Linked DNA regions of Homo sapiens: region 2 is reported to be linked to region 1. The links are microRNA targets in miRTarBase. Many come from high-throughput screens and were not tested one by one. Region 1 holds a microRNA gene; the other region holds the end of a gene's coding sequence.

Region 1 (5,357 bases):
CTCCTGTCCGGGAGGTTTGCGCCTGGCGGGGCACCCCAGAGCCGCGAAGAGCCGGTAGGCGAGGCCAGGGCGGGGTGGGGCGCGTCCAGGCGGGGAGGGCAAACTCGGGCAGCGCAGGGGGCGCAGAGGGCAGCGGGCGGGCGGACGCGCGGCGGAGGCGCGAGCGGGACGAGGGCTGGCTAGTGCCGGGGCCGCCCGCCCGAGGGGGAGGAGGCTGTGCTGCCCTTGCTGCAGGTTCGCTGTCGAGCGCACAGGAGGCAGGGACATGGGTAGGGTGCGGTCTGCGCGGGGCCCGAGCCCGGATCTCTTCCATTTCCCCTCTCACTCGGCCCCGGGCTGCGCCGCAGACGGCAGCAGCTCCCGCTCCGCCCGAGCCGCCTGACCGCCGGGCCGGGGTGCTAACCGCGGGGCCCTGCAGCCCGCCGGCCCGGCCAGCCCAGCCCAGCCCGGCGGCCCGCAGCCCCGCCGCCCGCCGCCCCCCGCCGCCGCCGCGTTGCCAAAACAAACGGGCCGGCCTATTTATTGGCGGCCGGCGAGCCCGGCAGCTCAGAGTCGAGGCGCCGAGGGGGACAGCGCGCCGCCACCAGCTCGGGCCCTGGGCCCCCGCCCCGCACTTGAGTCCCGCCGGCCCTGGCCGCACCACGCCGCCCATGGCGCCCCCGCCTGGAGCCCCCCGGAGCCACCCGGACGCCTGAGCCCCCGCAGCGCTCCCGTCGACGCGCCTGCCCATCAGCCCACCAGGAGACCTCGCCCGCCGCTCCCCCGGGCTCCCCGGCCATGTCTCCCGCCCGGCTCCGGCCCCGACTGCACTTCTGCCTGGTCCTGTTGCTGCTGCTGGTGGTGCCGGCGGCATGGGGCTGCGGGCCGGGTCGGGTGGTGGGCAGCCGCCGGCGACCGCCACGCAAACTCGTGCCGCTCGCCTACAAGCAGTTCAGCCCCAATGTGCCCGAGAAGACCCTGGGCGCCAGCGGACGCTATGAAGGCAAGATCGCTCGCAGCTCCGAGCGCTTCAAGGAGCTCACCCCCAATTACAATCCAGACATCATCTTCAAGGACGAGGAGAACACAGGCGCCGACCGCCTCATGACCCAGGTGAGCGCGATCCGCCCTACCAGCGCGCCGCCACCGAAGCACGGCCACCTGCCCGGCCCTACCCACCCCCTGGCACATTTTCTCGACTGGCTGGCACGCTCCCTGGCACCTGCCCCTCTCGCCAAGCCCCGCTGCCTCCTGCCCAAGATGGGCTGGCCAGGGGTCCAGGCAGGAGTGTCGGCATCCCCAAGCCCGGAGGAGACTGCTAGAAGAGCTCCCCGCTGCCAAGCCCCACAGCCCAGCAGGTTGGCGGCGGCTCCTCTGCCCCAAAGTACTGGCAGCTCAGCCAGACGCTGCACCCGGAGGTACCTCTACCCGGCTGCCTCCTGCGCCTCCAGGACCCACGCAGTCCCTCCCGGCCTAACCTTCTGCACAGCTGTGCCCCTTTCATTTTGAAACTTTTCGGCACCCCTGAGGCAAAGAATCTCTGGGTGCGTAGGGTCACCACGGCCTTTCCTCCCTGTGCGCTCTTGGTTCTACGGGCTGCCCCTTCCAGGAGCAGCGTCCCGGCTGGGTCTGGGGTTAAGAACAGCGAGGAAGAGTTGAATCGGGAGGCGGAGGTGGGAAAAGGAACCTGCCCAGCGAGCCCACGTGTCTGTCCGGAGAGCTGAGGGGTGCTACTGCGGTGGAAGGGTGGGTTATTGGGGCCTTCGGGCTCTGGGACTGAGCTTAGGGGATTCCTGGGCTTGGTGGTGGGGACGGGAAGGAGTGGAAAAGAGGGGCTGAGATGCCGAGGGAGGCAGGGACCAGGGCTGACGCTAGTCTCTGCATGCTGGAGTAGGACCCGCGCTCCACCCAAGCTTAGAGGCGCAAATTCCTTCCCAGCAGCCAGGTCCGCGAGGGGAGAGACCTTCACCCCCTTCCTTCGGGGTCTCCCGAGGCTTCCCCCTGAAAGCAGGCCCCTGGCTTTCTAGATCCGTTGGGAAGAGCAGCTAGACTCAGGGCCCTCAGCATGCACCCTGGCGCCGGGGCTGGCCGGCCAGTGTCGGGGCCGAAGGTTGGCTGGTGGCCGGGCCGGGCCGGGCGCCGAGGAATGCAGATAAGGATCCGGGCCACGGGCTGGGCAATCATTGACAGCGCACGCCCGGGCTCTGGACCCGAGAGGGGGCGGTGGCAGTGAGGGAGAGAGGCGGGGAACCAGGGCTGCAGGCGGGCATAGGTGCGGGGCTAGAAGCCTGACGGCAGGGTCTACGAAGGAGCAAGCGGAGCTCCCTCCCTGGGCAGTAAGCACCCCCAGCCAGGCTGTGCACCAGCGAGGACCTGCGAGGCCCTGGGTTGTAGCTGCTATTGGCTCCTAGGAAGGCTGAGTCCAAGGGTCTGTGAGGCCCGGGCTCTGCAGGGTGGGGGTAGGTTGAGACTTGGGCTGCCCACACTTGTTGGCGCCTCGAATCTCAGAGTCTCAGAGTCGAGGACTGGTGGAAGGGCCTTTCCCCTCAGACCAAGGCCCTGGCCCCAGCTTCTTCTCAGAGTCAGCTGCACAGTCTCTTGGGCTCTCAGGACCCAGGCACACCAGGAGGCAGCAACCAAGGATGACCGCTTCGGTCCTTCCCCCAGGGCGCGGCTCTACCCCAACTCCACGTGAGGAGGATGGTGGAGCTGGCTCCCTGAGATCAGAAGCTTGGTTTATGGAGTTCCTTCCTACGGTATAGGGGCGGGGCACCGGTGCAGAGGTCCTGGAGGTCTGGGATTGTCAGCCCCTTTTGCGCCTTGCAGAGGAAGACGTTGCATGTGGCCCCCCATTGGGCGGCCCTGGCGCTAATCCGCCGGTTTCTGGTTCCCTGGCCCTGTCATCTCTGGCGGGGTTGTGGGCCGGTTTAAGATTATAAGAGGGTCCCGGCGGGAATCCTCGGTGGTGCTCGAGGGATCCAGGCAGGCCGGCGATTCCCCTCCAACACACCCCCTGAAGCTACCGAGACGCTCTGCACCTGCCGCGCCTCCAGAGCCTGTCGTCCCCAGGCCTCAGCCCTGAGGCTGCGGTGACACCTACTGGGCACCTCGGGCCTTGCACGCCTCGCAGGCCGGCCGCAGGCAGTCGGCTCTGCTGCCACTCCTCCCTCCCGGCCGCTGGCTGGCCCTCCTGCCTTGGAGGCACAGAGGGACCGGGCGCTGAAAGGTGTAGTCCTGTCTGTGGAGGGATGGATACCCGGAGCTGAAGACAGCACAGGAGAGAGGGGACCTCCACCTACCAGTGAAGGCGCCGCCAGGGCGCTTGCCTCCATGCCTCCTCCAGATTTGTGATACCGCCGTGCGGTCCAGATCCCCGGGGGCGGCTGTATGCTAGGGAGGGAGCACTTCAGGGCCCTCTGTTCCTAAGGGAGAGGGACAGCACCCTCCCGGGCTTCCAGCTCCCTTGGGTGTGGCGGGAGAGTTCTGGGCGAGGCTGCGCCTACACCTGCACCTCGGCCGGCTCCTCCGGCTGATTTCGCTCTGGTTGATTTCGCGCACATTCCTCTCCCAGCGCTGCAAGGACCGCCTGAACTCGCTGGCTATCTCGGTGATGAACCAGTGGCCCGGTGTGAAGCTGCGGGTGACCGAGGGCTGGGACGAGGACGGCCACCACTCAGAGGAGTCCCTGCATTATGAGGGCCGCGCGGTGGACATCACCACATCAGACCGCGACCGCAATAAGTATGGACTGCTGGCGCGCTTGGCAGTGGAGGCCGGCTTTGACTGGGTGTATTACGAGTCAAAGGCCCACGTGCATTGCTCCGTCAAGTCCGGTGAGCCGCCGCCGGGGGGCTGGGCCCGGGGCCGGGGCCGCAGGGCATGGGCAGGAGGAGTAGTGCCGAGAAGGTGAAGAGCCCGCCCGGGGATGGAGGCAGGGATCCGGGGGAAGAGGACATCAGCGGCGCTCTCCAAGGCTGCTCCTGACCGTGACTGCCTGCTCATCCCATGCCTGGCAGTGTCATGGTAGGAGCCTAGGGCGATAGGGCCCTGTCCCAGGGCTGCTGGGTGCTGACCTGGTGGCCCACAGTCCAGAGCCTGCCACAGGAGGTGCAAGACAGAGCAAGCTGGACAGATGGAGGAAGCCAGGCTGCCAGACAAGGCCTCCCCACCCCACCTGGCACAGAACAAGGCGGGTGGTGGGGCCAGGAGCCGGGGTATGCCCAGACACCTGCATGCCTGACCAGGAGCCCAGAGGCTCAGAACCCACCACCCAGCTGCAGGTCAGCCCTCCCTGGGGCGCAGGCGTCCCCAACCTCTCCCCCTGTGCCCTGAAGCTGGACATTTTGGGGCAAAGCCAGCCAGGAGAGCCAGACTAAACAAAGTGGACTCAATAAAGTGGATTTTCCCAGATTGGCCGCATTGTTGATCAGAATTGGCAGGCACTGGGGCCTCACCCCTCCCTCAAGTCTTGTCAGCACCCTGTCACCTACACTGAACCCAGCCATGGAGGCTCCAAATGGTTCCTGTGTGGCTCCCAGCCAAGCCCCACCTGGCTGCCGGCTCAGCCTTTCACACTGGCAGCGTGTAATAGTTGCACTCTCATAGACCCGCACACTGAGCCCAGGCCCACATTTTGATATTCCTGACCCTACCCTGACCCACAACCACACCCTGAACCTTCCACTCAATACTTCCCCTGCCAACTGTGTCTACTGCAAGGCCCATCCACCCTTCACTGCAAACATTGACCCACGACAACCACTTCCATTCATTACTCCTGACCCCCAAACACTGTTCTCCAGCTCACCTGCTGATGCCGCAGTGTTCTGTCCCTGCACAGGGACTCAGCATGTGAACTGAAGATGGTGACTGTGTCCTCGCCCCTGGCCTGCCCCTGACCCAAACATTCACTCCGAGGCTGCCCAGGAGTCTGCCTTTGCCCCACTGGGTGGGCTCCTCTCACATCCCTACATTCAAAGGTCCAGCTCTGTTACAGAACCTGGGGAGTCAGCCTGAGAGGGCAATTTTTGGGAAGTGTCTGAGCAAGGGGTGAGAAATAACAGAACATCTAGGCCTCGGAGGAGCTAAGCAACCTCCCCCTTCCATGAGGTAGCCCTTTCCTTCTCATCCACTGGGTCTTGGAGCCCCACTATGCTCCTTGGCAAGGTATTAGGCTGGGGAGGGGGGTCACAGAAGATCACATTGGAGTAAGGGGATGGGGGCAGTGAAGTATGGGTTCAAGCCTGCATAGGAAGTGGGGGGCAGGAGCTGGGATATGGTGACGGGGGCTCTCTGGGAGCAAGAGGAGCTCTGGCTGGCTGGGGTGGCCAAGGGAGGGTCGTTGTGACCAGGAGGCTGAGCTGCACAGCAGTAACACC
Region 2 (5,357 bases), not on the chromosome of region 1:
AGCCACCCCATCAAGAACACCAACGACGCCAACTCCTGCCAAATAATCATCCCCCAGAACCAGGTCAACAGGAAGTCAGGTAGGCCGGGCGCTGGTACAGCTTCCTCTAGGGTGTTCTCTTTGGGGTTACTCTTTTTCTCCCCATCAGTGTGGGAGCTCCCTGCCTTACCTCTCTGGAAAAAAATTTGAGCCACATTGTAGCCACCACAACTTGGAGCCCTAGGGTTTGGGTGGCCTGGACTCTTTCCCTCTGGGAGGGTGGCGGCTTGGATGCTACCTGCTCTGCGGGGCTGGGGAGGGGCAGTCGGGCCAGACTTGTGTCCAGCCACTGGAACCCCTCTCTGCGTATGGCCAGCGCCTCTGGCCTGAGTTGACGGAGCTCTTCCTGTGGCCAGACATCTACGTGTGCATGATCTCCTATGCACACAACGTGGCGGCCCAGGGCAAGTACATAGCTATTGCCAGCACTACTGTGGAGACCACGGACCCTGAAAAGGAGGTGGAGCCGGCTCTGGAGCTGTTGGAGCCCATTGACCAGAAGTGAGGGACTGGGCTGAGCCCAAGGGGGAGAGGGAGGGAGCCCAGCAGCTGGGCTTAGGGACCAGGAAGGGCATGGCCCATTGTGAGGCCTGTCCCCTCCCCTCTGTCTGCCCCTCAGGTTTGTGGCTATCAGTGACTTGTATGAGCCCATTGATGATGGTTGTGAGAGCCAGGTAAGCAGCTCGTCCCAGCCCTGGGCTCCTGGCTGCCCGCCCAGGATACCTGTCTGACTCACCCTGGGCGCTGGGCTCTGGCTGTTTCCAGGTGTTCTGTTCCTGCTCCTACGATGCCACCACACACTTTGAGACAACCTGCAACGACATCAAAGACATCTACAAACGCATGGCTGGCACGGCCTTTGACTTTGAGAACATGAAGCGCAAACAGAACGACGTCTTTGGAGAAGCTGAGCAGTGATTGTGGCCGCCCCCAGCCCCTGCTGCCCCAGCCTGTGTCTGTTCTCCTCGAGGGCTCCAGCATCCTCTGCTTCCCCCACCACGTTCCCATCACCCACCTCATTGATCCACTGACCAAATCCTTAACCCTAGCGATGGCTTGGGAGATGGGGGGTTGGATAGCATCCTCTTTCTTGGCCCTTCCTTATCCTAGGAAAAGAGGGTTCCTCTCCTTGTGTGTGTCTCTTCCCCCCACCCCTAATTCTTCTGCTCTGTTTGGGAAGACGTGGAGGAAAAGGTGACTTCTGCCCCCACCGCTCTTACCCCCACTGTAGTGGCCTTTGGAGATGCCCCCACCTCCCCCCCACCAACTCTCGCGTGTTGGAGAGAAGGGGCCCTCCCAGCACAAAGTTGCATTCCTCCCCCCTAATTTATTCTAATTTATTAACTTTGACCCACCCTTTCTGAGCCTGCAGCCTTCCCGTGTGGCCTGAGGGCTGTCGAGTGAGCTGCCCCAGCCCCTCCCAGCCCTTGCCCAGCCTGGGGGAGTGGGGAAGGCTTGGGCATGGCCCCGTTGGAGGTTGATTTGCTGTTTTGTTTCTTGTCTTTGTGTTCTGTGGTACTTGCTGAGAGAAAAGAAAAGTGAGCCAAGCAGAAGGAGGTGGGAAAACGGACCCAAACCCCAGTGTGCCCTGCCCCATGCCTTTCCTTTAGTGGTGGGAAACCCTTATCTTGCAAAGTGAATGTGTCCCCTTCCCCACCCTCTAGTGTATTTCACAGAAAACAAAACCTCCCAATAAAACGGTTGAAACCTGAATCTCTGGATCTTGATGGTTATCTCCCAAAAGCTGGGTACCTGGCAGGGCTTTGGCTGCCTGGGTTGGGGCTCTGGCTTAGCTTCACTCTGGACTGTAAAAGGTGGCATTCTTCACCAGGGAATTCCTCACCCAGAGCACGCTGGGGCCAAATTGACTTAAAGCTTAAGGCTACCCAGTGAGTCGATGCTGGCACCAGGACTGCAGCCCTCAGTGCTCAATGCAGGGGGAGTGTGGTGGAGGGCGGGTGTCAACGTGGAGGAAGCAGAGGGAGCGGGGGTCCTGGCCTCTGGCTTGAAAGGAGAGGGCAGAGGGGACCAGGGGCCAGCCTCGGATGGGATTCTAAGTGAAGCAGGGAGACGGGTGCCAGTTTTCGGCTTAATGCGGGGGAACTAGGGCAGCCAGGGGACCAGCGTTGGGGTCACCAGGAGGAATTAGAGGGACCGGGGCCCAGCCTTGGCTCGGGTTAACGTCGAGGCAGCGCGAGGGGCTGGGGAATTCAGCCTCCGGGGTCCACAGGAGCCGGCGGCGGGGGCTGGGGCGGGAGTCCACGCAGGACCAGGGGCGGTCTCCGGCGGGGCGGGGCGGGCGGTGGTCACGCTCCGGGCCAGCTGGCGCGCGGCGGGGCGGGGCATCCGTGCGTCTCCTGGTGGCTGACGTCACGGCGCGGGCGTCAGCTGACTGTTCGGCCGCCACCGCCGCTGCCGCTGCCGCTGTCGCTGTCGCCGCCGCCGCCGCCCGCCGCCGCCGCCGCCGCCGCCGCCGCTGCCATGGCTCAATACAAGGGCGCCGCGAGCGAGGCCGGCCGCGCCATGCACCTGATGAAGAAGCGGGAGAAGCAGCGCGAGCAGATGGAGCAGATGAAGCAGCGCATCGCGGAGGTGCGAGCCGGGGAGCCTCGGAGCATGCGCGCTGCCCAGGTCCCCGGCGGCCCCGCGCCACGCTCCGGCCCTGGAAGCCCTGGGGCGGTGGCCACGGAGCGCGGGCGGCGCGCCGGGGCAGGCCCCTGGCTCGCTGACTTCCAGCAGGGCACACAGAAGCAAGCCAGCGACAGTCTCATCTGTGAAATGGGCCTGGAGCCGGGCGTTCTCCGAGGCTGAGGCCACTAGCTGATGACCGGCCTCCGGCAGGAGGGAGCCGAGCCAGTGTTTCTGTTGGGAGGCACGGCGGGGACGGGCCTCTCGTCGCCTCGCCTGGGCACCCAGCGTCCTGGCTCTGGCCCCTCGGCCCTCAGAGCCAGGCCTCTGCCCCCTCGGCCCTCAGAGCCAGGCCTCTGCCCTGGTCCTATGGACACCGGGCAGGGCGGTTCGTCTCCCCCTGGAGAGGCGGGGAGGCCTGAGCCAGACCTGGCAAGTCCACTGGCCAGGAGGCTCCTTCCAGAACCCCTTGCACCTGTGAGGCAGGCACGACCCTCCCGGGTGCCAGCGGTTCACCCACTGCTTCCGTGAGTGGCCTGTGATGGTGGTGGTCAGGGAAGGAGCGTGGAGGAGCTTGATCCTTTTGGGGAGACTCACTCATCAGGACTCGGGGCTCCAGGGGAGAGCAGGCTCCTGCCTGGGGAACTGGGGAAGCCTGGCCAGAGGAGCCTTGAAACACCAAGTCCTCATGCCCTGGCCGCACTGTCTGAGCCGGGGTGCCCAGCAAGCAGAAGGTGTATTTCTCTGCCAGCCACCTTCTTGGGAGACCACTGGTCAGCGAGGGCTTGACATGGTACCAAGTGGGTTGGGGCTGGGGCCAAAGAGAGGCCTCCTGGGAAGCTGTTGATGACATTCTGGGGCCTGGAGGGAGGAAAATCACTCAGGGAGGGGCCAGGCCCCTCAACCACTCTGTTCTTGTTTGCCCTCTCCTCATAACCCTTGGCTTGGGTCTCGGAAGCTTCAGCTTAAAGGCTGGAGATGAAAAAGGCCAAAGGTCAGTAGGGTCGGTGGCTTCAGGCTACTGAGGGACCTGTGATCCCCAGCAGGAGACCTGAAGAGCCAGAGCAGCTCAGGGATGGAAACAGCCCCATTTGGCACTCTTAGCATTTGAAGAGCCCTGCCCAGCCTCATGGAACCTTCCATCGACAAGGGCACAGGGGCAGATTTGGACTATAACGCAGGTCCTTGATGGCCAGCCTGCCATTTCCACAGTGAGGGGTGGTTCTCATGGTGGCTGTCACTCCCCGCAGGAGAACATCATGAAATCCAACATTGACAAGAAGTTCTCTGCGCACTACGACGCGGTGGAGGCAGAGCTCAAGTCCAGCACCGTGGGTGAGCAGGGTGCGGGTGCCCCTCACCCGGGCCCCGGGCCACTCTTCCGCTGGCCCTGCGACTACCTTGCCCCTTGTGCCTCCTTGCTTCAAAGGTCTCGTGACCCTGAATGACATGAAGGCCAAGCAGGAGGCTCTGGTGAAGGAGCGGGAGAAGCAGCTGGCCAAGAAGGAGCAGTCCAAGGAGCTGCAGATGTGGGTCCTCTCGCCGCAGCCCTCAACATGGAGCTAGTGCTTACGGGGTCCCGTGGCTGGTCGGGCTCTTTTTGCACCCTGGGGGGGACCCTGTCTCCAGCTTTGGGACAGGGGTAGCATCTAGCTTGCGATTTGCATTTCTCTCTCCCGCCTCCTCGGGTCCACGCTCACGTCTTTTCACCATGGCGGCTTGTCTTCTTTCTGACCCTCTAAATGCAGTGGGCCCTTTCCCAGCATCCGGTGCCTGAGCAGCCTGCGTTCTCCCCATTGCCAGCCTGTGCTTGGCTCTCCCCTGTGGCCCTCTGTGCTTGCTGTTTGTAACAGAGCCCTCGCCCATGAGCTCAAAGTGATCCAGGACAGCAGGACCCGTCTGGGGCAATGGGGACCCAGCCTGGGCTGGGCAGGCCCCACATAGGGCACACAGGTGGCTCTGGGTCAAGGAAGGGGCTGGGTCAGGGTCGGGAAGGACATGATGTGTGATGGGGCCACCTGCACCTCACTAGGAAGCTGGAGAAGCTTCGAGAGAAGGAGCGTAAGAAGGAAGCCAAGCGGAAGATCTCCAGCCTGTCCTTCACCCTGGAGGAGGAAGAAGAGGGAGGCGAGGAGGAAGAGGAGGCGGCCATGTATGAGGAGGAGATGGAAAGGGAAGGTGAGGGCTGGCTTGAGTCGGAGCCCCGCCCGCAGCCCCTGGGGAGGGGTCCCCAATGTGAGAGGCTGTCAGCAAAGCTGATGCCCTGTCAAGATGGCTCCAAAAGCTGCCCTCTTGAGGCACCGCGCACAGTAGACCGGGGAGGGAAGAGGCTGGTCTAGACCAGGCTGGCTGGGCACATTTTCTGTGATGATGGAAATGTTAGAGTCTGTGCCACCCAATATGGTAGCCACTTGCCCCAGGTGCCTCGTATGACTGGGGCACTAAATGGTGAATTCTGTTTGATTTGTTTCAGCGTAAATGTATACAGCCACAGAAATTCCGAGGCTACTAGTCAGACACTGCAGGTCTCAGCTGTGAGAACAAGGGGCTGTCAGGGAAAGCTCAGGATGGCTGGGGAGTGAGGGTAAAGCCAGCCTGGCCTCCACGTGTGCCACACACCTGTGCTGTGCCTGGCCAGGGCACATAGGGTGCTGTCCCTCTCCTGGTGGAAGTCACGGGTCACCATGCAC

What was found. The annotated mature microRNA hsa-miR-3131 reads UCGAGGACUGGUGGAAGGGCCUU and lies in region 1 at 2,498-2,520, shown strand. An mRNA with a match to its seed (bases 2 to 7 or 8) in the 3' UTR can be bound and repressed. Matches are read on the target gene's strand: a 7mer-m8 pairs with bases 2 to 8, a 7mer-A1 pairs with bases 2 to 7 and ends in A, and an 8mer does both.
Region 2: the mRNA of GDI1 is a reported target of hsa-miR-3131. Seed matches in the 3' UTR shown: 7mer-A1 at 1,002-1,008.

What each region holds. Positions count from the first base shown.
Region 1 is chr2:219,055,888-219,061,244 of GRCh38, reverse strand. MIR3131 (microRNA 3131) reads left to right here and starts at 2,495; the gene lies at 2,495-2,557. It overlaps IHH (Indian hedgehog signaling molecule), which reads left to right and starts at 324. Exons shown (of 3, transcript NM_002181.4): 1 at 324-1,092; 2 at 3,551-3,812. The coding sequence starts at 778.
Region 2 is chrX:154,441,716-154,447,072 of GRCh38, forward strand. GDI1 (GDP dissociation inhibitor 1) reads left to right here. Exons shown (of 11, transcript NM_001493.3): 8 at 1-79; 9 at 396-540; 10 at 659-713; 11 at 805-1,752. The coding sequence ends at 957. It overlaps FAM50A (family with sequence similarity 50 member A), which reads left to right and starts at 2,426. Exons shown (of 13, transcript NM_004699.4): 1 at 2,426-2,631; 2 at 3,918-4,002; 3 at 4,097-4,196; 4 at 4,700-4,845. The coding sequence starts at 2,521. RefSeq lists enhancers at 2,053-2,620, 3,188-3,755 and silencers at 2,254-2,603, 2,614-2,823, 2,834-2,923.